Linked DNA regions of Homo sapiens. The protein of the gene in region 7 purifies or fractionates together with the protein of the main gene of each other region. This does not show direct contact. Each region holds a gene or a part of one and is shown on either strand. Other genes may lie near its edges.

Region 1 (3,500 bases), on a different chromosome or scaffold from region 7:
TGTGGTGGTGCATGCCTGTAATTCCAGCTACTCAGGAGGCTGAGGTAGGAGAAATGCTTGAACCCAGGAGGTGGAGGTTGTGGTGAGCTGAGATTGCGTCATTGCACTACAGCCTGGGCAACAAGAGCAAAACTCCATTTCGGAAAAAAAAAAAAAATACAAAAAATTAGCTGGGCATAGTGGCAGGCACCTGTAATCCCAGCTACTCGGGAGGCTGAGGCAGGAGAATCACTTGAACCTGGGAGGTGGAGGTTGCAGTGAGCGGAGATTGCACCACTGCACTCCAGCCTGGGCGACAGAGACTCTGTCTCAAAAAAAAAAAAATATTTACATAGCACTTATACTGTATTAGATATTTTAAGAAATCTAGAGATGATTTAAAGTATGTGGGAGAATGTGTATAGGTTATATGCAAATACTACACCAGTTATATAAGGGACTTGAACATCCTCAGATTTGGGTATTGGAAGAGCTCTGGAAGCATCATCCTCAGATACCAAGCTACAACTATAAGTGGTTTTTAGTTAATTCTTGTTTGTTTTAATAAACAAAGTACAACCACCCTTTCCACCAAAAAGTAAGCAACCATGCCTGATTCTGCAGATCCCACTAATAAAGACACTTACTGCCAAGAATTTCTGTAACTGCTTCTCGAGTCACTAGTGTTTCTGTTTCCAAATACACAACAAATGCTGCCAAGAAGACCAAGCGCTGCAACACAAACCTCCAGTGCTCATGAAATCTGCATGAAAATAAGCACATTTAGCCTCCAAGGTTAGGGACCTTCAGAAAGATGGGTTTAATACAGCCATGTTCAAACGGTTTAGAAATGCGATCATTTTTCAAATAAAATCTTACACAAACCCCCAATATATAAAGAGAAATATGACATTTAGCATTAATTTTACAAGTTCGAATTTATAACAATTAAGTTTAATCAGTGACAAATATGGTCTAATTTTGATGAGTATGAAAATTTACGCCGGGTGCGATGGCTCACGCCTGTAATCCCAGCACTTTGAGAAGCAGAGGCAGGTTGATCAATCTGAGGTAAGGAGTTCAAGACCAGCCTGGCCAACATGGCAAAACCCCCTCTCTACTAAAAATACAAAAATTAGCCAGGCGTGGTGGCAGGCGCCCATAGTCCCAGCTACTCGGGAGGCTGAGGCAGGAGAACTGCTTGAACCTGGGAGGCAGAGGTTGCAGTGCGCAAGATCACACCACTGCACTCCACCCTGAACGACAGAGCGACACTCCGTCTCAAAAAAAAAAAAAAAAAGACAGAAAAAAGAAAACTGAAGATTACAGATGACAAGAGCAATTGTGCCTTCTAAATTTAATCAGTAAGAACAGTGATACTGCTCTGAAAAAAATAAAAATTTGTAACTGATGATTGAAGACAACTGCAGTTATGTATCATCCTCAACGTATTCCTCCATTTTGATTTGAGTGCAGAATACCAAGAAAATTCTGATTCACAAAATTACCATTTGCAATCACTAAACAAATGCACTTAAAATAGAATACTGAGCTAGAAGCCTGAAAAAAGGAAATTTTACAACCTGTGGATATTTATGCAATGCCTCCTGATTCTCAAATGTGGCAATACATTCAAAAAAAAGGTCTCAACATAATGCAGGTCACACAAACCCTTCTGAAGGCCAAATCCAGCCAGAGGGCAGCCTGTGTGTGACCTCCAGAGAAGATGGTCTCTAAAGACCCCACCTGTTCTACTGTCCTACCTCTCTCTGTGCTTCAGCTATTACAACAGCAGTCCCTGACCTTTTCAACACCAGGGACTGGTTTCATGGAAGACAATTTTTCCACAGAAGGGGGGCGGATGGTTTCAGGATGAAACTGTTCCACTTCAGATCATCAGGTATTAGATTCTCATAAGGAGCATGCAACCTAGATCCCTCGCATGCACAGTCCACAATAGGGTTCGCACTACTATGAGAATCGAATGCTGCCACCAATCTGACAGGAGGTGGAGCTCAGGCAGTACTGCAAGTGATGGGAAGCGGCTGTAAATACAGATGAAGCTTCACTCGCTCACCTACCGCTCACCTCCTTCTGTGCATCCCAGTTCCTAACAGGCCACAGACCAGTACCAGTCCATGGCCTGGGGGTTGGGAACCCCTGCCTTACAGCAAGGATCAGCAAATGTTTTCTGTAAAGGGCCAAGTAGTAAATATTTTAGGCTTTGTGGGACGCTTTCACTGTTACATATTCTTATCTGGGATTTTCTTTTTTTTAACAACTCTTGAAAAAACAAAAGCAATTCTTAGCTCCCAGAGGCAGCAGCCACTAGTGGTTTGTCAACCTCTCCCTTAAAAGAATATTCTCATAAGGTTATACTACCCACCCCCTGAAAATACTCATCCTATTTACTGCTGATATATACGTCTTAAAAGAACATCTTTTTCAGTAAGAAAATTAAAATAAGTAGAAACTTTTGATTCAGGTGCAGTTTTTCCCAGTTTAACACCTATGAAACCAGGAGACATTTCACAATCCATGTTTCACAAGTTGTTTTTTTTTTTTAGATGGAGTCTCACTCTGTTGCCCAGGCTGGAGTGCAATGGCACAATCTTGGCTCACTGCAACCTCCGCCTGCCTGGTTCAAGCGATTCTCCTGCCTCAGCCTCTGAAGTGGCTGGGGTTACAGGGATAAGCCACCACACCTGGCTAATTTTCGTATTTTTAGTAGAGACGGGGTTTCGCCATGCTAGCCAGGCTGTCTCAAACTCCTGACCTCAGGTGATCTGCCCACCTAGGCCTCCCAAAGTGCTAGGATTACAGGTGTGAGCCACCACGCCTGGCCCATGTTTCACATTTATGACTGGCAAAATTTTCCTTCCCTACTGGTACATAAAATAATGGTGTATCTTAAAATCAACAGTGTTGATTTTAATAAGAAAACATGGCATAAAATATTAGCTAATTACATCACTTGGCAGTGAAATTCAAGCTTCAAAGTAAAACTCGACTCCATATATATACTGCCACCTAATCTCATTATTTCACTAACTATAGTTCATCCAATTTCACAAGAAACTTGAATATAGCAAAAAGATATTCTCACTTTTGACCCTCATACCACATTTTCTTTTTAATTGCTTTTTCACTGCAAAAGTAATACATGTTCCTTAAGATTTAGACAGTAAAAAGAAGAAAAAAATAAAATCACCAATTTTTGTCATGACCATTATTAGTTCGGTTTTTTCTCTTTTTGTTACTTCTACACAGGATGTTTGCCTAGTTGTAAGCAATCATTTGGTACACATAATTTTTCTCCTTTTTTTTACTTAACATTATAAAATAATGCTATTTTTCTTACAAACCTGTAATACTGTTCAGCAGGAAATTTGGTCTTCAAAGATGTTAGATGTGTTTTTACTGTACCAAAATGTTCTCGAGCTTTCAAACACCTCTTTGGAACTAGTCACAAAAGATAACCAAATGAAAAACTTAACCAAATTTCAAATACAGTTCTTGCT
Region 2 (3,500 bases), on a different chromosome or scaffold from region 7:
ACATTGCTGGAGGCATTTGCCAGTTAACACGAACTCTTCTGCATCTTAAGGGACAAAGCATCTTACTATCCAGATCACAATCACCTGCTAATTTGTATAGAGCCATATCATTTAGGATATACTATCTTTGTCCATTTTCACAAGTTTGGGATATTATTTTCCTACTTCAGCAGCTGCATGTGTGATACTGGCATAATAATTCCTTATGATGGACACTGAGAGTAAGTGAAATGTGTCTAACCCAATGCCTAGCACGTAGGAAGGTGCTGAATAAATATTAGCACCTTTTATGGTGGATTCTTTTTTGAATATGGATAGTAAAGATCAGAAATGTTGAGTACCACTTAGTGGTTAAACAGTGTGGGCTCCAAAGCCAGACCACTAGTTTCAAGCCCAACTCTACCAATTTAGCTGTTAAGCCTTAGACAAGTTAATTACCCAAGTAAAGTCTGTTTTTTTCTGGAATAAAATAGAGATAATACCTGAACATTTCTCTTGTAGTTTTTGGGCAGATTAAATGAGATAATGCATGGAAAGCTCTTAGCATAGTCCCTGGCACCTAATCACTGTTCAATAATTATTAACAAGCTCTATTAAATCCTGCCAAATAGCCAGAGCATAAGCCAACACTGGAATCTAGGCCAATGCTCTTTCTGCTACACCAAGGCAGCTCCTGATGATAACAAACATTAACCCAAGTGAGAAGGAAAGAGAGCTAACATTTATGGAGGGCCAGCTGCATTCCAGACATGGACATCGTAACAAAGCAATTCACAGGGAGATGATGAGGTTCACGGGGCTTAGTAACCTTCCCAAGGTCACAAAATAGTGAGAGATTGGGGGTCAAATGGACTGACCTCAAGTCCTGCAGCCTTTGTCCATCCAGTGGTTCTCCAGCGTGCATCAGAATCACCTGCAGCGTTTGTTAAAACCCAAATTCCAGGCCTTTCTCCCAGACTTTCTAATTCAGTGGGCCTAGGGTTGGCCTGAGAATCTGGATTTCTAATAAGTTCCCAGGTGAGATCAATGCTGTGGGTCCTGGACTGTACACCCTCAGTATACGCCAAGCTGCCTTTGCTCAGTAAAATTCCCTGTGATGAGACACCACTCAGGCTGCCAGAAGCCCAAGGAGAGCCCTGGGGCTGCCCTGGGGTACAGTGAGAAACCCTAAATGCCCTGACTTGATCACTATGCATTATAAACATGTAACAAAGTTTCTCATGTAGCCCATAAATGTGTACAAATAAAAAAATTTTTAAATGTTCTCTTAAAGAAAAGAAAGATGTCTCTGCTAAGCTCCTCAGGGCCTCATGACATACCACCCACAGCTCTGTCAGACAGGCACAGACTTTTGTCAGGCACAATCTATAACCTCAAAGTCAGCACTCCCAGTTGGGTGTTTTATTATTTATTTACTTGACAGGTAACATCGATTTGGTCCTACAAGACACCATGCTATAGGCTTAGCTACTTGCTGTTGCACAAGAGAACTTTCCTGAACTCTCAGGAAGCCCTTGCATGGCCTATCGAGGACAGCTCAGTCACTGAAGGGAAAAATTCCATACCAAAGAAGAGAGAAAAATTCCATACCAAAGAACAGACTTCCCCCAGGGAACCTCCGTCCTACAGCCCTTCAGGGCCATCACACTCACACACATCAGCCATCATCAAAATAGTGGCCATGCTGGGAAGAACAGGAGTCCTGAACTAGAAGGTGGTCTTCAAACCATGGCGTACCGATTTATGTATATTACAGATAGATAAATTAAGAGGTCTACATGAATAAAAAATCTCTCAAAGGGGAACGAATTCCATTCTGTCATGCCAGGTGTTTGTCAGAACCTTGAAAACGAAGGTGGTTTTCAGTGGAGCTTGTATTAAAAATAGAAGGTATTTATACACAGGCCCTGCTCCTCTCATGGCCATGAAATCCTCTGGTGTTGTCAGGACCCCTGGGCAACCTCAGCACCCCTACGGGTAGCCCATCTGCAGTCTGCATCTTCCGGGAGAGCAGGGGACTCGTACCGGGGCTTTTCTCCTGGGTCCCCATCTCGGCTTGGCGACGCCTCCGGACCCAGGGGCTGCCAGAGGGAGTGACGCTGCTGTCAGAGGAATAATCCATACACTTGCGGAAGATCTCAGGGCTGGTGCTGCAGTTCAGTCTACCTTCCTCCGCCAGTGGGGACTTTCTGGAAACGCCTTTGCGTTGGGCCAAGGGGCTGCTCCAAGGACTTGTGCACGGGGAGGCATTTGGACTCAGAAAGAGATTCTGGTGGCCAGACGGGCTGAGCTTGTTGGTGGCCGCGTGCCGTCGGCCCGCCATAGGGGATGTGGGGTTGCTCTCGGGGTCAGAGGAGCTGTTGGCAGAAGACTCATCACCCATGTACTGAAGCTCCTCGACTCTCTTGTTCAGGGACTTGTTCAGGTGGATGCTCGCAGTGGGCTCCTCGTCATGATTTTTGTCTTTGGCAGGTTTCTTTTTGGGTGGCTTCATACCAATCAGGACAGCTTTCATGTTCTCTTTGCCCTGAGATTCTGTGATCATGAACTCATGGGCTTTGATGGCTGCTTCCACCTCCTCGAACTCCACGATGGCGCACTCCTGGGTCCCCACTTGGCTGTAGCGGCTGCTGATCCTCCGGATGTCAGGGGGCAGCTCTCTCCCAGGTTTGAGGATCCGCACTGATGAGATGACTCCAAAAGTCCCAAAAAGCTTGAGCAGGTGTTCCATCACCTTCTCTTGCACCCTTCCATTCTTCTGGGGGGTGGCCAGAGCCCACAGCTTAGGAGACAAGTAGAGATCATAGACCAGGAGCATCTTGCTGGGGAGGTTCTCGTTGGGGAACAGTGGGACGGGGGTGGTCCTCCTCACCTTCCGGTGGTCCTCATTCAACTCAAGGACCACTGAATACTTCAAAGCATGTGCTGTGGTTCTCCAGTCCCGTGTAAGATGTTTCACCTGCAGAACATAAAGCAAATCTGAAATAGTATCTAATGTCCTTGTCCATCCTTGTGTATGCTATAAGCTCCCTCCCTCACTTCCTTATCCCTGTAACACTAGAATCCCTGTATTCTAGTGTCTAGAATCATACGTGGTATGTGTAAACACTCAAAAATCTAGTGAATGAATAAGTGAATGAAAACAAGTTCTACCATTTCAAACAAGGGCACCACAGCAGTGTTGTCCAACAGAACTGTCCATGAAAATGGAAATATTCCATTCTGTGCAAGTTTAGAGGTTAAATTTGCAGGCTCTGGAACAAGGCTGCTGTATACACAAATCAAAGGCCCACCTCTAGCTTGAAGTAAGACTTGGAAAGTTATTCAACCTCTTAGTGCCTCGACTTGCCCTGGAAAATGGAGATGTTAATAGTGCCATCTCAAAGAGCTGTCCTGAGGATTAAACGAATCAATATATACATGTACATATGTATGTACAGACACATACAAACTCATTTACACATAAAACAGAATAGTGTCTAGCTCACAGTGAGTACTAA
Region 3 (3,327 bases), on a different chromosome or scaffold from region 7:
TGAAATCTCAATTGCTGGTGGAACCTCTTCTGTGTTTCTGCTCGTTGCTCCTCTGTCACTACTTATTATGATGTGGGTCCACCCTTCCTGCTCTGCCCCGTCTCACCCGTGCCCAGTGTATTCTGCCTTTCCTCACCCTGTGTGCCGCTCTCCCTTGCAGATGGTAGCTTCCCTTGCATATTCAAAACTGCGGCTTCCCCTGAGTAATCAAGCCCCCTCCTAATTCCCAGCCCCCCACCAAGACAGGGGTATGGTCAGCCCTGAGGAATGTGTGGCAGAGATGAAAAAGAAAAAAGGGTGAAAAACACAAGGGAGACAAGGAGCCCGAGAGGCCGCCTCACCCCACTTTCAACAGCTCTGGCTACTGGGCAGAGCCAGCCTCATGTCCTAACGCTCAAGTTTTAAGTACACCCTGGAAACCAAACCAAGCAGGGCTATCAAGTCAGGAACAACCTTCTGGGGAAAACAGAGCAGTGAGGAAGAAACCGAGGTGCCCACTATCAACAGGAAATTAATTTTATTTTTAAATCCAAGGGGCCAGAACAAATGAGACACCTACCCTTGGAGGACAAACTCAAGTGGCCAAGGTTGGGGGAGGGGATGACAGCAAGGGGCTGGGCAGGAACGCGTCCAAACACAGCAGATGGAGAGGACGACCTCTTCACTCCGGCGCAGCCTCCATCAAATACCCATTCTCCGGAGCCAGGTAGCCGTCGCCGCCCTCAGACTCCATGTACATGTCTCGGCTGTCGTTGCCCAGACCCTCCAGCCCGTTGTCCTGGCCACCGCCCCCACCTCGGGCCTCATCCCTGCCCCGCTCACTGCCCCGCTCCCCCCGTTTGTGCTCGCGGTCACGGTCACGGTCACGATCCCGGTCCCGGCGCCGCTCGCGCTCGCTCCGGTGGCTCCGCCGTCGCTCCCGGTCACGATCCCGGCCCTTTTCCTCTGGACCGTCAGGGCCGTCAGGCCCGAGCTCCCCTGGAGGCCCATCATCAGGGGGCGCGTCACCCGCCTCGGAGGGCTCCGCCATGTCGCCACCGCCGCCACGCAGCTCCTCCTTGCGCTCCCGCTCCCGCCGGGCCCGCTCCCGACTCCGGCTGCTTCGCCGCTTCCGGTCCCGGTCCTTGTCCTTGCTCCGCTCCCTGGAGCGCCTCCGCTCCTCCTTGTCGCGACTCCGTGAGCGCCTCCGCCGGTCCCGGGAGCGGGAGCGTCGCCGTTCTCGCTCCTTGTCTCGCTCCCGGCTCCGCTCTCTGCGCTCCCGCTCACGGTCCCGGTCCCGGTCCCTGTGCGGAAGCGGGGAGGGGCCGGGCCTGGATGAGGTGGGCAGACCTGTGTGGCTGGGCTCCCCCCGTGACCGCCCCCCACCCCAGGACACCGGTCGCCCAATCTTACCTCTCATCGTAGCGGGAGGTGTCATCGCGGCCTGAATGCCGGATGTTCACATCAGCCCCTCCTCTTCTGGTACCACCGAGGCCTCCTCCTGGGGCAGGGCAGACGGACAGAGGGTGAATCTGGGCAGGGACAGGGCCCGGAGGAGCAGAAATGAGCCGACTCCAAGAGCAAAGGGCAGGAAGGCAGCCCCTGGCTTAGTGTTCACAGGGCCGGGTCCCCCCGTGCAGTTCATCCCGCGCACTCCCATCACAAGACAGCCACGTCTTCTCTAATTAACTCACACAAAGCGTTCGCTAGGCAACAGCCGTTACTGGAACCCATGTCTGGCCCCAAAGCGCATCATCTTAACCATAGCGCACTTCACAGCCTCCTCAAAACCCTCCCTTCCAATCATCCTCGCCCTCACAGAAACCCGAAGCCAATGATCTTTCCACCCAAAAATGTGATCTGCTTAGAAGCCTTTGCTGGCGTCCCCCAGCCTAAGGTCCAAACTCCTCGTCAACTGGTGGTAGAGGCAGCAAGAGCGGGCCCTGCTAGCGTCTGAGCCGCGGCTCTTGGCTGCGTGTCCCAGGCCTTTCCCAGTGTCCCCACGCTCACCTTCCTGCCAGTGTCTGTGCATTCTCCTTGCCCTGGACTGGTCTCCCCTTCCTTCTCTGGTGAACTCACGCTCACCCTTAACGCTAGCCCGAACATCCTTTCTCGGGAAGTCTCTCCTCACAGTCCTATGTACTCACAGTTGCAGAAACGCTTCCTTCCCCTGGAGTTTCAGGTTTGCTACCTGAGTCGACCCCTACCTGCCTCTCCCACCAGACTGCAGGGCACCGGAACCGTGGGCATGCCCAGCTCTTGCTCACGGTACCAGCAGGTGGCGCTGCAGCTGGTATAGAAAGGTGGATGTGTGTGTGTCAAGTGAATAGATAGATGAACAGCCCCAAGGCACAGATGATAACCTCATGGTTCTGATGGGGAAACAATCTCAGATCAAGTCACTGGCCCACAGTGACTCAGCAAAGAAGGTGCAGAACTGGGCTGTCACTGCCGTCTGCTGCAAAACCTGCCTTCTCAAGCGCTCCTCTATCTCGCACTGCCTGGAAAAGCTTCCGTGAGGCAGGGCTGAGTTCTGTATAGAAAAGAGGCTGCAGGGAGACATTCTTATAGAAGCAGGCAGCGGACCAGGCACCTGCCATGTCACAGGCACAGGGCAGCTAGACTAGCCTTTCCTATATTCAGGTCATGACCCAGAAATGAGTCCCATCATCAATCTGATGGGTTGCAACCAACATCTTAAGAAACAAAACAGCAGAATACAACTATATACTTACTACATAGAAAAAACTGTTTCCTCAAACTTTAGGTTACAGTATTTCTGCGGGTGCACCGAGTCAAGATGTTATTGGCTAACACCAACAAAAAGTTTGAATGGCAATTGAACTAGAAGATTCTGAGATTCTGGAAAGACTGAGATTCTAGCATTTTCCCGCCCCAACAGGAAACAGCAGAGCTATAAGAACCCACTCCACCCCAGAGAGACCAGAGTAAGGTAAGAACATGCCTGGTAAGCTCCGAGGCTCAGCAGCTGAGAGCGTGGTCTCCCTAGCACAGGCGAGTCCAGAGCCAGGACACAGGGCTGGGAGGCAGGACAGGAGCCCCAAGTGGCTACTACTGCCTGGGTGTCTGCCCAGGGACCATCATCTTCTCTGACAACTGTCACTCAGCTTTGCAGGATTCAGTCCTCAATAAGCATGCCTGAGCAACAGGACCCCAGGCCCAACACTGAGTCAATCAAATGTGCCCACCCCGAAACAAGAGACTCATCCAGGACTGAGTGTAAAGCTGGGGCCTGTGGCCTGCTGCGCTGGGCCAGTGCAAAGAGGCATGGGACCGACCTAGCTGCATGGAGGCAAACGAGGCAGAAGCAAGCTGTGGGCTGTCACA
Region 4 (3,500 bases), on a different chromosome or scaffold from region 7:
AAATTGTCAGCTGAGGCCAAGAGTTCAAAACCAGGCTGGGGCACATAGCAAGACTGTCTCTTTTTTTAAAATAAATAAATAAATTCTGAGTATCAGGTTCTTCTGGACAATAAGAATAATGGCTCCTGCCATATCCCATTACTGTATGGAAGGAGGTAATGTATATAAAGCAGTCAGCACAGTGGAGTGCTCAGTAAGTTAGCTGCTCTGTCATTATCATCATCCTCCTCACAGCACTGCTTGTTCTTTCAGCTATAATGGTTGGATTGTGGATGGCTGTTTTATTTTCTATTTTTTTTGAGATGGAGTCTCACTCTGTCTGTCACCCAGGCTGGAGTGCAGTGGCATGATCTCGGCTCACTGCAATCTCTGCATCCTGGGTTCAAACTATTCTCCCATCTCAGCCTCCTGAATAGCTGGGATTATAGGCGCCCACTACCACGCCCAGCTAATTTTTGTATTTTTAGTAGAGACGGGGTTTCACCATGTGGGCCAGGCTGGTCTCAAACTCCTGACCTCAGGTGATCCACCCACCTCGGCCTCTCAAAGTGCTGGGATTACAGACGTGAGCCACTGTACCCAGCCAGCTTTTTTAAATATTAACATCAAACAAGTATCTTGAAAACTGAAAGAGACATAATCTTTTATTTTCATAACTTGCTGTGGCCCCAAAATGAAGCACACAATGACTAACTAAAGAACTAAAGATAGTGATGTTGAGTGGACAAAAAGCTTTCCAAGGTCTCTCTCTGGAGCAGAGTAAGTGGCCAGTGCATGTCAAGAGAGGAAGAAAAAAACAAGTGCCATGAGTGAACCTTTTAACATGTCACTTCTTTTCCCTGTCAGGGGGTGTCTTCCAACCTTTTCTTTGTAGAACACAACTTTCCTGAACAGGAAATCCAAGAGGGCAAAAGCCATCAGAACCAGCATGAGGCTCACTTTGTGGTAGAGCTGTGCAAGTACTTCCTGTGCCAGGAATACCTGCCTTCCCAGATCACCATCCTCACTACCTATACCGGGCAGCTCTTCTGCCTGCGCAAACTGATGCCTGCCAAGACATTTGCTGGCGTCAGGGTCCATGTTGTGGACAAATACCAAGGGGAAGAGAATGACATCATCCTCCTCTCGCTAGTGCGGAGCAACCAAGAAGGCAAGGTGGGTTTTCTGCAGATATCCAACCGCATCTGTGTGGCCTTGTCCCGAGCCAAGAAGGGAATGTACTGCATCGGAAACATGCAGATGCTGGCCAAGGTGCCCCTGTGGAGCAAGATCATTCATACACTTCGAGAGAACAATCAAATAGGCCCCATGCTCCGGCTCTGCTGCCAGAACCACCCTGAAACCCACACCTTAGTATCCAAAGCTTCTGACTTCCAAAAAGTACCCGAAGGAGGCTGCAGCCTGCCCTGCGAGTTCCGCCTGGGCTGTGGGCATGTCTGCACCCGTGCCTGCCACCCTTATGACTCTTCACACAAGGAGTTCCAATGCATGAAGCCATGCCAGAAGGTCATCTGTCAGGAAGGGCACCGGTGTCCCCTTGTTTGCTTCCAGGAGTGTCAGCCTTGTCAGGTGAAGGTGCCCAAAACCATTCCTCGGTGCGGCCATGAACAAATGGTCCCTTGTTCCGTGCCTGAGTCAGATTTCTGCTGCCAGGAGCCTTGCTCCAAGTCTCTGAGATGTGGGCACAGATGCAGCCACCCATGTGGTGAGGACTGTGTGCAGCTGTGTTCAGAAATGGTCACCATAAAACTCAAGTGTGGGCACAGTCAACCGGTAAAATGTGGTCATGTGGAAGGCCTCCTGTATGGTGGTCTGCTAGTCAAGTGTACCACAAAGTGTGGCACTATCTTGGACTGCGGGCATCCTTGCCCAGGCTCCTGCCACAGCTGCTTCGAAGGGCGTTTCCATGAACGCTGTCAGCAGCCCTGCAAGCGCCTGCTTATCTGCTCACACAAGTGCCAGGAACCATGCATTGGTGAGTGCCCACCCTGCCAGCGGACCTGTCAGAACCGCTGTGTCCACAGCCAGTGCAAGAAGAAATGTGGGGAGCTGTGTAGTCCCTGCGTGGAACCCTGTGTCTGGCGCTGCCAGCACTACCAGTGCACCAAACTCTGCTCTGAGCCCTGCAACCGACCCCCATGCTATGTGCCTTGTACTAAGCTGCTAGTTTGTGGCCACCCCTGCATTGGTCTCTGTGGGGAGCCATGCCCCAAGAAATGCCGGATCTGCCACATGGATGAGGTCACCCAAATATTCTTTGGCTTTGAGGATGAGCCTGATGCCCGCTTTGTGCAGCTGGAAGACTGCAGCCACATCTTTGAGGTGCAAGCCCTAGACCGCTACATGAATGAACAGAAGGATGATGAAGTCGCCATCAGATTGAAAGTCTGCCCTATCTGCCAGGTGCCCATCCGCAAAAACCTGAGGTATGGAACTAGCATAAAACAGCGGCTAGAAGAGATTGAAATCATCAAGGAAAAGATCCAGGGCTCAGCAGGGGAAATAGCAACCAGCCAGGAACGGCTTAAGGCCCTGCTGGAGAGGAAGAGCCTCCTCCACCAGCTGCTTCCTGAAGACTTCCTGATGTTAAAGGAGAAGCTGGCCCAGAAAAATCTGTCAGTGAAGGACCTGGGTCTGGTTGAGAATTACATCAGCTTCTATGACCACCTGGCCAGCCTGTGGGATTCCCTGAAAAAGATGCATGTCTTAGAAGAGAAAAGAGTGAGGACTCGACTAGAACAGGTCCATGAGTGGCTGGCCAAGAAGCGCTTGAGCTTCACTAGCCAGGAACTAAGTGACCTCCGAAGTGAAATCCAGAGGCTCACATACCTGGTGAACCTTCTGACCCGCTACAAGATAGCAGAGAAGAAGGTGAAAGATAGCATAGCAGTAGAGGTCTATAGTGTCCAGAATATCCTTGAGAAAACATGTAAGTTCACCCAAGAGGATGAACAACTTGTGCAGGAAAAGATGGAAGCTCTGAAAGCCACCCTTCCCTGCTCTGGCCTGGGCATCTCAGAGGAAGAGCGAGTGCAGATTGTCAGTGCCATAGGTTATCCTCGTGGTCACTGGTTCAAGTGCCGCAATGGCCATATCTATGTGATTGGCGATTGTGGGGGAGCCATGGAGAGGGGCACGTGTCCTGACTGTAAGGAAGTGATTGGTGGCACAAATCATACTCTGGAAAGAAGCAACCAGCTTGCTTCTGAAATGGATGGAGCCCAGCATGCTGCCTGGTCTGACACGGCCAACAACCTGATGAACTTTGAGGAGATCCAGGGGATGATGTAGGAAGATGGTACACCACTGCCTTTTGCCCTCGCCACTGAATGACTGGGGCCAGCTCCCTAATGAAGGAACTGAAGTTTGTTTTTTATTATCATCCTTTTTAGGCTGGGCGCAGTGGCTTACGCCTGTAATCCCAGCACTTTGGGAGGCCGAGGCAGGCGGATCACGAGGTCAGGAGTTCGAGACCAGCCTGACCAACATGGCGAAACCCC
Region 5 (2,290 bases), on a different chromosome or scaffold from region 7:
AATTACAGGCTCAGCTCTTCAGACCTTACCCTGTCTTATAGGCGATACAACTGGCCACTGTTTCTGGCACAACTCCACTGCCACAGGAGCCACCTTGCTGCCATCCCACTCCTCATCCATGGCTGAAGTCAAAGCAGGGGCATCCCAAGCCTCATCTGCTCAATCTCCAAACTTGGAGACCCCTCCCTTCCACCTCTAATGACTGAAGGAAATGGAAGTGGGTCCCACAACTTCCATCAGCCGTTTTACTCTAGGTCTCCAGAGCAGCCTTCAGTCAAACGGCTGTGGGGGAGGCAACGGTCTCTGCGTCAGGGACCAGCAAGCAGGAGAGCAGGTTCCAAGAAACAGCTGGAGACAGAAAGGATGGACCAGGGATGTCTATGCCTCACTAAGTCGTATTTCCCCCATCCCCATTTCTCCTGGCTACTGACAAAATGAATATGGACGCACAATTTACCAGAAGATGTTTTAGCCACGTTGAATCTTGGAAGGTGAGCATCCTAGGATGGGCAGTATAAACAACTGTGTTTTTAAATGACAAAATTATTACTCTAATCAAATTTATCTGCAGTTATCGACAGTAATCATGATCCATCCCACCTTTTAAGTTTCTTTCATTTTCAATATCAGCCAATTGTGGTTTATCAAACCATCCCTAGCCAAAAAAGGAATTAACTGCAGTAATACGTAAAGTCAATTTAGAACTAAACTCCAACTTTAAAAAAATTCCCTGATTCATCAAAAGTACATTTTATCCACTTAGGTAAGAAAAGTATAATTGTAACTCAATCTTTGATTCAATAAAAAATATCTTCAGCAAAAGTGGATAACCTTACATGAAAGTGAGAAATCATGTATTACAACTTTAAATCAGACAACTTTTGGTATATTCTTAAAATTATATAAAAATAGTTTTAGTGATAAAATGCATTGGTCCCCTGGATTTCATAAAGCAGATCTGGTAGGCTTAGAAATGGCCCAAAAACAACAACAAAAAAAAAAAAACAAAAAAAAAACCCCCACAAAAAAAGTACCTGATCACAGAATTAGAGATTATTATTAAACAAGTAATACAACACAACTATAAAAACAAACCTCTCAAACTCATTCATTTGCTTCAATGAAATTATGGTAACTACAGAAAAAAACTCAACTTTGTAGTCAAAATAGTAACCTCTAAGCATTTTTCCCATGATGTTTTTAAACACATGAAATTGACACTAAATTCCTATGTAATATGTCACTCATTCTAAAATTACTTTGGTTTTAAGATCAAATAGTCTTTCAAATTTATTCTACGTATAAGAGATAAGACATTATCAGAATGCAACTCATTCAGTGTAAATGGCCACTTTCTCTTCCTGACCAAAATACTGTATGGGTTACTCTGACCCTGTATCGGGGAACTGATAGCACTATAAAGTCGAAGTCTTGCCTCAGAGCTATGATAGTTTTTTCTCCCCTCAGAATAAGATCACAGTGATAAAAGGACTTCGAAAACTGTAAAAGCCCTGCAGAGACTTCATAGCATTGGAAGTAAAAACCAGTTATTATAAGCTAGTTTCAACTTAATGTAAGAAGACCATGACAAGTTTGCTTTCAATATTTGACCAAAGACATCTGTAAATGGAGAAAAACCTATACTCAGAATGTTCTTTAGCTACCACCTCTCCCAAGTAACAAGGGTGCACTGAATGCATTACATAAATTACATGTAAGCAGTTGCAATGTACGCACACATAAGGAAACACTGAATTAAAAGCTGCCTTCCTCAAAGTGTAGTGAGACCTCAAAACCACACTAGCTCTAACCTCAGTTACAAAGACAGAGGATCCACCGAACGTTTACTCCTACATACATAACAAATGTGACTTTCTTGCACATCTGTTATCTATTCAAATTATTAACTACCTTCGCCTTCCTAGAAAAAGGCCTATTATTTAATATTAACCATATTCTAATTTTAAATGTAATTCATGTCTTAAAAAATAAGTCTTTGAACAGATAAAGAAAAAAATGGCTTACAGAATACCACATAACTTTTCACAAGCAGCTAGACAGACTTTCCCTTTTAGAAAAATTAGTCTGTATGCTACAAATATTAAAGTACTATAAGCATCTAGAGTGCCACTTGATTTTTTAAAAGTATACTTAGACAACACAATTAAAATGCAAAAGCTTGATGTGAGAATATTCAAACATGACCATGCTAATAATTTACTAATTAATGCCACTTCATTTCTTTAGTGGCTTAAGCACATTTTGGTAGGAGAAAGGCATTTTCAGAATA
Region 6 (3,500 bases), on a different chromosome or scaffold from region 7:
TGTCTCCAACTCCTGGCCTCAAGTGATCAACCTGCCTCCACCTCCCAAAGTGGTGGCGTGAGCCACCACACCTGGCCCTATAGTATTCTTCATAACAGTAAAAAACTGGAAACATACTAAGTGCCTAATAATAAAGGATTAGATAAGTTACCACATGCTATGCAGCTATTAAAAATGATGTAGAGAAATATTTAATGATTCATAAAAACATTCAAGATATGTAATTAACTTTTAAATAGCTAGTTTTGAAACAGTATATGCAATACACTTACTTTTTTAAAAATTGTTATACATATTTAATTCTCCAAAACATTCATATACACATATACTTTTAAGGGTAAACACAAGTGGTTTCCTTTGGGGTAACAGGATTATAGATATTTATTAAAAAATTTTTTTCATTTAAAATTTTTTATTTAGAGATAGGGTCTCACTATATTGCCAAGGCTGGTCTCGAACTCCTGGCCTCAGGCAATCTACCATCTCAGCCTCCCAAAGTGCTGGGATTACAGGCATGAGCCACCACGCCTGGCCTAGATATTTATTTCATTCTCTTTGCTTATTTTCTAATTTTTCTATAATGACCGATTATTGGATTATTTTTTAATTTAACAATTAATTTAGCTGGGTGCGCTGGCTCACGCCTGTAATCCCAGCACTTTGGGAGGCCAAGATGGGTGGATCACCTGAGGTCAGGAGTTTGAGACCAGCCTGACCAACATGGTGAAACCCCGTCTCTACCAAAAATACAAAATTAGCTGGGCATGGTGGCACATGCCTGTAGTCCCAGCTATTTGGGAGGCTAAGGCAGAATTGCTTGAACCTGGGAGATGGAGGCTGCAGTGAGTGAAGTTTGCACCATTGCACTCCAGCCTAGGTAACATGACTGAAACTCCGTCTCAGAAAAAAAAAAAAAAATCATTAATTAAAAAAAATCAACAACAGACTGGGCACGGTGACTCACGCCTATAATCCCAGCACTTTGGGAGGCCGAGGTGGGTGTATCACCTGAGGTCAGAAGTTCAAGACCAGCCTGGCCAACATGGTGAAACCCCATCTCTACTAAAAATACAAAAATTAGCCGGGCGTGGTAGCAGGTGCCTGTAATCCCAGCTACTTGGGAGGCTGAAGCAGCAGAACACTTGAACCCGGGAGGCAGAGGTTGCAGTGAGCCAAGATTGCACCACTGCACTCCTGCCTGGGAGACAGAGCGAAACTCTGTCTAAACAACAACAACAACAACAACAACAACCCCCCCAAAAACAGATTAATGATTCAATTTAAAAAGATGGAAATTAACTTTTTATCCTCCTTACTGGGCTTACTTACCAGTATTTTTCATGACTGATGTTAAACTGCTAAGGATGGAACTGATCTTTGCCAGATCCACATTAGCCAGGTTTGGCAAAGCCAATGCTGGGGAAGGGGAAAGAGAAGTATTCACAGGCTTTGGAAGAGGTGGAGTTGCTGTCATGGTCACAGGCACTGGGGTACATGAAGAGGCCTTTGAGATATTTTCTGTTGGCTTTGTAGGTACAGAAGTGGATACAGCTGACTTCTCTGCAGGTTTTTCCTTCCTGTCCTCGACTGTTTCAACAAAGAAAAGAGATATTACATCCTACTACTTTCCAGACTTTGCTTCCTATATGAAATAACATGTCCTAATATTTCCGGACTTGGGGGAAAAGGCACTACTTTAGAGAAAACAACGACTCACTTCATGCTTTTTTGAAAAAGTCATACTCTTCATAATTTATGATAATTCCCACCTTTAATATCTGCTTAAAAGCAATTTCCAGCTGGGGACAATGGCTCATGTGAGGTCAGGATTTCGAGACCAGCCTGGTCAACATGGTGAAATCCTGCCTCCACAAAAAATACAAAAAATTAGCTAGGTGTGGTGGCAGGCGTCTATAATCCCAGCTACTACAGAGGCTGAGACACGAGAATCGCTTGAACCCAGGAGGCAGAGGTTGCAATGAGCCGAGATTGTGCCACTGCATTCCAGCCTGGGCAACAAAGCGAGACTCCCGTCTCAAAAAAAAAAAAAAAAGCAAGCAATTTCCAGAATTTATCTTGTATCTTACTTTTCAATGATTCCTTTGCATTTTCTTAGTATTTGTGTATTAAATCTGTACAATTCAAGAAGCATGTTATTATTTGGTACACATTTGTGTTCTGTCTTTTGGAAATGATATTTTTCATAAATTGTCCTGTGTTTTTCTTTTCCATTAACCTGAGAACTTTCTAAGAACTTCTGTTCTTAGAAACAGAACCTCTATAGTGTTCATTGTATTTTCCTCTGGCTTCCTGAAATTGCCCTATTGGGGGGTGCAATCAGGCACTAGCTAATTTGAAACTACAATGTTTTAACTCTCAATCACCTTGAATAATTATTTTTAATGCTTTAAGGGCTGTATCAATAGTGCATTGAATTCAACAGGAGTCAAACTATCTAATAAGATTTATGAAGGCTGGGGATATAAGAGAAACAATTCACCAAATCAGGTTATTTCTGAAAGTGTGATTAACAAACTGACTTTGGAATTCTTGATGGTCAAAAGTGACAGAGAATAAGGAATTCCAGTATAAGTGACCCCTCATCCCAAAACAGTGCTATTTAACATGAATACAATTTAAGCCACATATGCCACATATGTAAGTTTAAATTTTCTAGCAGCCAAATTAACAAAAAAAGAATCAGGGCCGGGCATGGTGGCTCAAGCCCACCTCCCAGCACTTTGAGAGGCCGAGGCAGGCGGATCACTTGAGGTCAGGAGTTCGAGACCAGCCTGCCCAACATGGTGAAACTCCGTCTCTAATAAACATACAAAAAATAGCCGGGTGTGGTGGTATGCACCTACAATCAATCCTAGCTACTCGGGAGGCTGAGGCAGGAGAATTGTTTGAACGCAGGAGATGGAGGATGCAGTGAGCCAAGATTGCGCAACTGCACTCCAGCCTGGGCGACAGAGGGAAACTCTCTTTTTCTCTCAAAAACAAACAAATAAAAAGAAACAGACACATGTAATTTAAAAATTCTATTTTATTCATCCTAATATATCCCAAATATTTTCATTTCAGTGTTATAAATAAAAAATTATTAATGAGATATTTTAACTCTTTGGGAGAGTTTCTGCCACCATGCTCGGCCTAGTTTCTGGACTCCAATGTGTCTGGTTTTTTTTTTTTGGAGAGAGGGTCTCCCTCTGTCATCTAGGCTGGAGTGCAGTGACATGGTCTTGGCTCACTGCAACCTCCGCCTCCCAGGCTCAAGTGATTCTCCTGCCTCAGCCTTTCCAGCAGCTGGGGCTACAGACGCATGCCACCACGCTGACTAATTTTTATATTTTTTGTAGAGACAGGGTTTCACTATGTTGCCCAGGCTGGTCTCAAAGTCCTGGGCTCAAGCAATCTGCCCGCCTCAGCCTCACAAAGTGCTGAGATTACAGGCATGAGCCACTGCACCTGGCCTCAATGTGTATTTTATACTTATAGCA
Region 7 (3,500 bases):
ATTAAATATATATCATTCTATACTTAGTGCTAAGGCACAAATGGGAGACAAAAAATACCCCACAGTAGGTTCTTGCCATAGTAGAGCTTTAGCTGAGGAGAAAAACATGCATTAAATATCACATTTAAGAAATATAATTAAAAGACATATATATGGCTATAAAAACTCAGAAAAAAGCACCTAGATATTGTCCAGAAAATGTAAGTAACAGAGCTAGCCGTCGGAAGAAGCAAAGAGAAATATATCAGGGGAAAAAGAAGGGAAGGCTATTCTAGATAAGCATTAATAGCATGTGCAATGTGGTTAATGAATATGAAAGACCATCTAACAGGAATGCTCATGATACACTACCAAAGCTTGCAATATTTAATAATGTGGGTCATGTGAGTGGCTGAATAAATATGTTCTGAAAGAAATAATGTCAACTATAAGTAGCCTTGCTGCTAAACTCCCTAGTATTCATTTCTCTTTGCCCAGGAAACTTGCTCCTCTCTCTGTCATTCCAATGCAACTCTCTGGCCCCAATCTACTTTCCCAACCTCATTTTGTATTGTTTCTCTGAATCTAGCAACACTAGATTATAAACCACTCCTCAAATAACTTACGTATTTTCTTCCAGGCTCCTATGTTCTTGTTTATATTATTCTCTTAAGTCTGTATTTTACATTCTTAGCTATTAAAGTTCTACTCACCCTTAGGGCTCATTTCAAATGCTATCTTTTCTTTGAAACTATTTATCCTCAACTCCAATAATTAACCATTCCTTTCTGTTCTCCCACAGAACTCCACTTATTACGGTGCTTAAATTTGCTTTGTTTTTTGTTTACATATATCCTTAATCACAGTGAAATGCATTTCATGGTTGTGGTAAGGGTTCACAAGTATTAGAATGACAGAAAGCATCAAAAGTGAAGAAAACAACAAATGTATCTAAAATTACTATTCTAATTATTCACAAGTCTCCAAAGAAACCCGGGCAATGTCCTTTGATATGCTAATTTCAAGTTTATTAAATAATCTCCCATAAACTTAAAACCTCTCTCTCTTTTTTTTTTTGAGACAGGATCTTGGTATATTGCCCAAGCTATACTTGAACTCCTGGCCTCAAGATCCTTCCACCTCAGCCTCCTAAGTAGCTACAGGCTAACGCCAACATGGCAGCTCTAAAATCTTAAGATTCTGCTTAGACTGTGTCTATTCAAAGGTGAGAAGAGAGTTGGAGTGACCAAAGTAGTAATATTAACCAGAGAGGTAATGTGTCTGTAGTTTTTCCTCCTATTTAGAAACAGTACTAAAATAGAGGCATGACATTTTCTGACAGGGCATGTACTAACTCTGGCAGATTTCCATTATTCACAGTAAGAGCCCTAAAATGGATCTAATCTAAATGTTTCCTAATGTATTATTCAATCTCCAGGCAAGAAATTGACATATATTAGTTGGCCACAGGGCTCAAATCAAGACAGTAAAGCGCTATTAACAATACCCTTTCAGCAGCTAACCCTCCAACATTTTCTTCACATCCCACGAAGTACTTGTCATCTCCTTAAACTACTGTTACCTCTTATACCCCAGTTTCTTGCAAATAATAATGCTGCCTGATACTTTCCATATCCTCAGAATGAACTTACCGTAAGTCTCATAATAGGAGCTGCTTAACTTACTTATTTAAACCTTCAACAAAACAGGCCAGTTTAAGATTTTTAAAAAATTGCCCAAATACCTTAACATGTTGACCAAGTCATCTAGGAGATAATACCATTTTCGATTTATCAAGAACCTTATTAAAACTAAAATTAGATATTTCTATTGGCTTTACAAGAAAGAAAGAGTGATACATTGTGATTACCTATAAATTCCTGGACCCAATCCCAGATCTACTTAAGCCCTCTTGGGAGCACAGCACAGAATTGTCTTTACTTTGGCACTCTTCCCAAATAGATACAAAGAGATGGTGTTTTAGGGACACTGTACTCAACACTGGACTCAATTGCCCGAATTACTCCAAGATAACATTCTACACTAGTCCACAGACCTATTCTGCTAAATTTCTCCACAAGAAACGGGACCAAATTCCACTTCTAAATGACCACACCATAAATGAGTTTTCCAAGAAACGTAAGAATGGAGGGAAAAAAAAATTGTTTCTAAAAATGCTTTATACCAACCATGACTAATCAGGTAGGCTGTGGGGAGTAACTTCTTGGAGAGAATACACACACACACAAACACGCACATGAAAACACGCTCCTACACCCCACAGACAAGACATAGAGGAAATGAGGGATAAATCTCAACTAGCATTTATTGAGCACCTACTATGTGACAGAGATCATATTGGACTTCAGGGATATATGGTGGAGAAAGATCTCTCTGTTCCTCCAATAATCTCATGGGTCTTAGTCCCATTTTACAGATATGAAAGCCGACATTTAAGAAACATCCTGCCATGGTGGGCAGATCGCTTGAGCCCAAGAGTTCAAGACCAACCTGGACAACATGGTGAAGCCCATCTCTACAAAAAACACAAAGATTAGCCAAGCATGGTAGTACACGCCTGTGGTCACTATTCAGGAGGCTGAGGTTGGAGAACTGCTTGAGACTGGGAGATAGAGGCTGCAGTGAGCTATGATCACGCCACTGCACTCTAGCCTAGGCACCTAAGACCCTGTTTCAAAAAAAAAAAAAAATCCTATGATGATCAAACTGGAAATACACAGCATAGTTAGCACACGAATGCAAGCCCACCTAGTGCCAATGCTTGTTATTATTTTCCACTCTAACACAGCACCTAAAGCCTTAACTGAGGAGGGGGAAAAAAAAATCACAAAAATCTTCCTTCTTGACATTTAAATCTATTCAATCTTCCTTATATGAGGCCAAATAGTTTGAAGGCTTTAGCCATATTAGTTTCAAAATAATATGTGATTTTGATCAAGTGCGGGTGGTGATAGTTTACATGGTAGCTATCATCGTTACTTTACATATGTAACACTTTCATAGGTGTAATAGACTTCAGGCAATGTTGTAAGTATTCGAAACATATTAACTTATTTAATATTCAAAACCAACCTATGAATTAGGTACCATGACAGAAAAAAAAATGGTTAAATAAAGTGCATGAGGCCACCAATTCAAATTCAGGTCATCTGGCTCCAGCCTTCATGCTCTTAATACACCACTTGTAAACACAGACATTGAGACTTGAAATGTTAAGAAAGCATAAAAACAACACTGTTTCAATAAACAAGAGCATACAGTCACGTATCTGCCACCACAGTCAATCAGCCTTCATTTTTTCATTCTAAAATTGGTATGTTTAATGTACTTAAAATGAAGGAGGCAGCAGATTTACAATTGCTCCTTAGTGTGAGGTTGTTAAAAAAAAAAAAAAAAAAGGCCAGGCACGGTGGCTCACACCTGTAATCCCAGCACTTTGGGAGGCCAAGGCGGGCAGATCACTTGAGGTCAGGAGTTCGAGACCGGCCTGGCCAACATGG

The links.
Region 1: the proteins of STRAP (region 7) and TSN purify together in Homo sapiens (affinity purification with mass spectrometry; 2 studies listed by BioGRID and IntAct, with this or other methods). This does not show direct contact.
Region 2: the proteins of STRAP (region 7) and LARP6 purify together in Homo sapiens (affinity purification with mass spectrometry; 2 studies listed by BioGRID and IntAct, with this or other methods). This does not show direct contact.
Region 3: the proteins of STRAP (region 7) and SNRNP70 purify together in Homo sapiens (affinity purification with mass spectrometry; 3 studies listed by BioGRID and IntAct, with this or other methods). This does not show direct contact.
Region 4: the proteins of STRAP (region 7) and ZNFX1 purify together in Homo sapiens (affinity purification with mass spectrometry; 2 studies listed by BioGRID and IntAct, with this or other methods). This does not show direct contact.
Region 5: the proteins of STRAP (region 7) and TGFBR1 purify together in Homo sapiens (affinity purification with western blotting; 3 studies listed by BioGRID and IntAct, with this or other methods). This does not show direct contact.
Region 6: the proteins of STRAP (region 7) and RPRD2 purify together in Homo sapiens (affinity purification with mass spectrometry; 2 studies listed by BioGRID and IntAct, with this or other methods). This does not show direct contact.

The regions. Positions count from the first base shown.
Region 1 is NC_000002.12:121,758,651-121,762,150, reverse strand, and holds part of TSN (translin), read right to left. Parts: intron 3,442-3,500; coding exon 3,345-3,441; intron 743-3,344; coding exon 627-742; intron 1-626. UniProt on the Homo sapiens protein: DNA-binding protein that specifically recognizes consensus sequences at the breakpoint junctions in chromosomal translocations, mostly involving immunoglobulin (Ig)/T-cell receptor gene segments.
Region 2 is NC_000015.10:70,830,158-70,833,657, forward strand, and holds part of LARP6 (la-related protein 6), read right to left. Parts: intron 2,960-3,500; coding exon 1,895-2,959; 3' UTR 1-1,894. UniProt on the Homo sapiens protein: Regulates the coordinated translation of type I collagen alpha-1 and alpha-2 mRNAs, CO1A1 and CO1A2. Stabilizes mRNAs through high-affinity binding of a stem-loop structure in their 5' UTR.
Region 3 is NC_000019.10:49,105,778-49,109,104, reverse strand, and holds the end of SNRNP70 (U1 small nuclear ribonucleoprotein 70 kDa), read right to left. Parts: intron 1,481-3,327; coding exon 1,393-1,480; intron 1,311-1,392; coding exon 662-1,310; 3' UTR 501-661; downstream 1-500. UniProt on the Homo sapiens protein: Component of the spliceosomal U1 snRNP, which is essential for recognition of the pre-mRNA 5' splice-site and the subsequent assembly of the spliceosome. SNRNP70 binds to the loop I region of U1-snRNA.
Region 4 is NC_000020.11:49,247,058-49,250,557, reverse strand, and holds part of ZNFX1 (NFX1-type zinc finger-containing protein 1), read left to right. Parts: intron 1-846; coding exon 847-3,291; 3' UTR 3,292-3,500.
Region 5 is NC_000009.12:99,150,113-99,152,402, reverse strand, and holds part of TGFBR1 (TGF-beta receptor type-1 isoform 1 precursor), read right to left. Parts: 3' UTR 1-2,290. UniProt on the Homo sapiens protein: Transmembrane serine/threonine kinase forming with the TGF-beta type II serine/threonine kinase receptor, TGFBR2, the non-promiscuous receptor for the TGF-beta cytokines TGFB1, TGFB2 and TGFB3.
Region 6 is NC_000001.11:150,458,147-150,461,646, reverse strand, and holds part of RPRD2 (regulation of nuclear pre-mRNA domain-containing protein 2), read right to left. Parts: intron 1,588-3,500; coding exon 1,330-1,587; intron 1-1,329.
Region 7 is NC_000012.12:15,885,387-15,888,886, reverse strand, and holds part of STRAP (serine-threonine kinase receptor-associated protein), read right to left. Parts: intron 1-3,500. UniProt on the Homo sapiens protein: The SMN complex catalyzes the assembly of small nuclear ribonucleoproteins (snRNPs), the building blocks of the spliceosome, and thereby plays an important role in the splicing of cellular pre-mRNAs.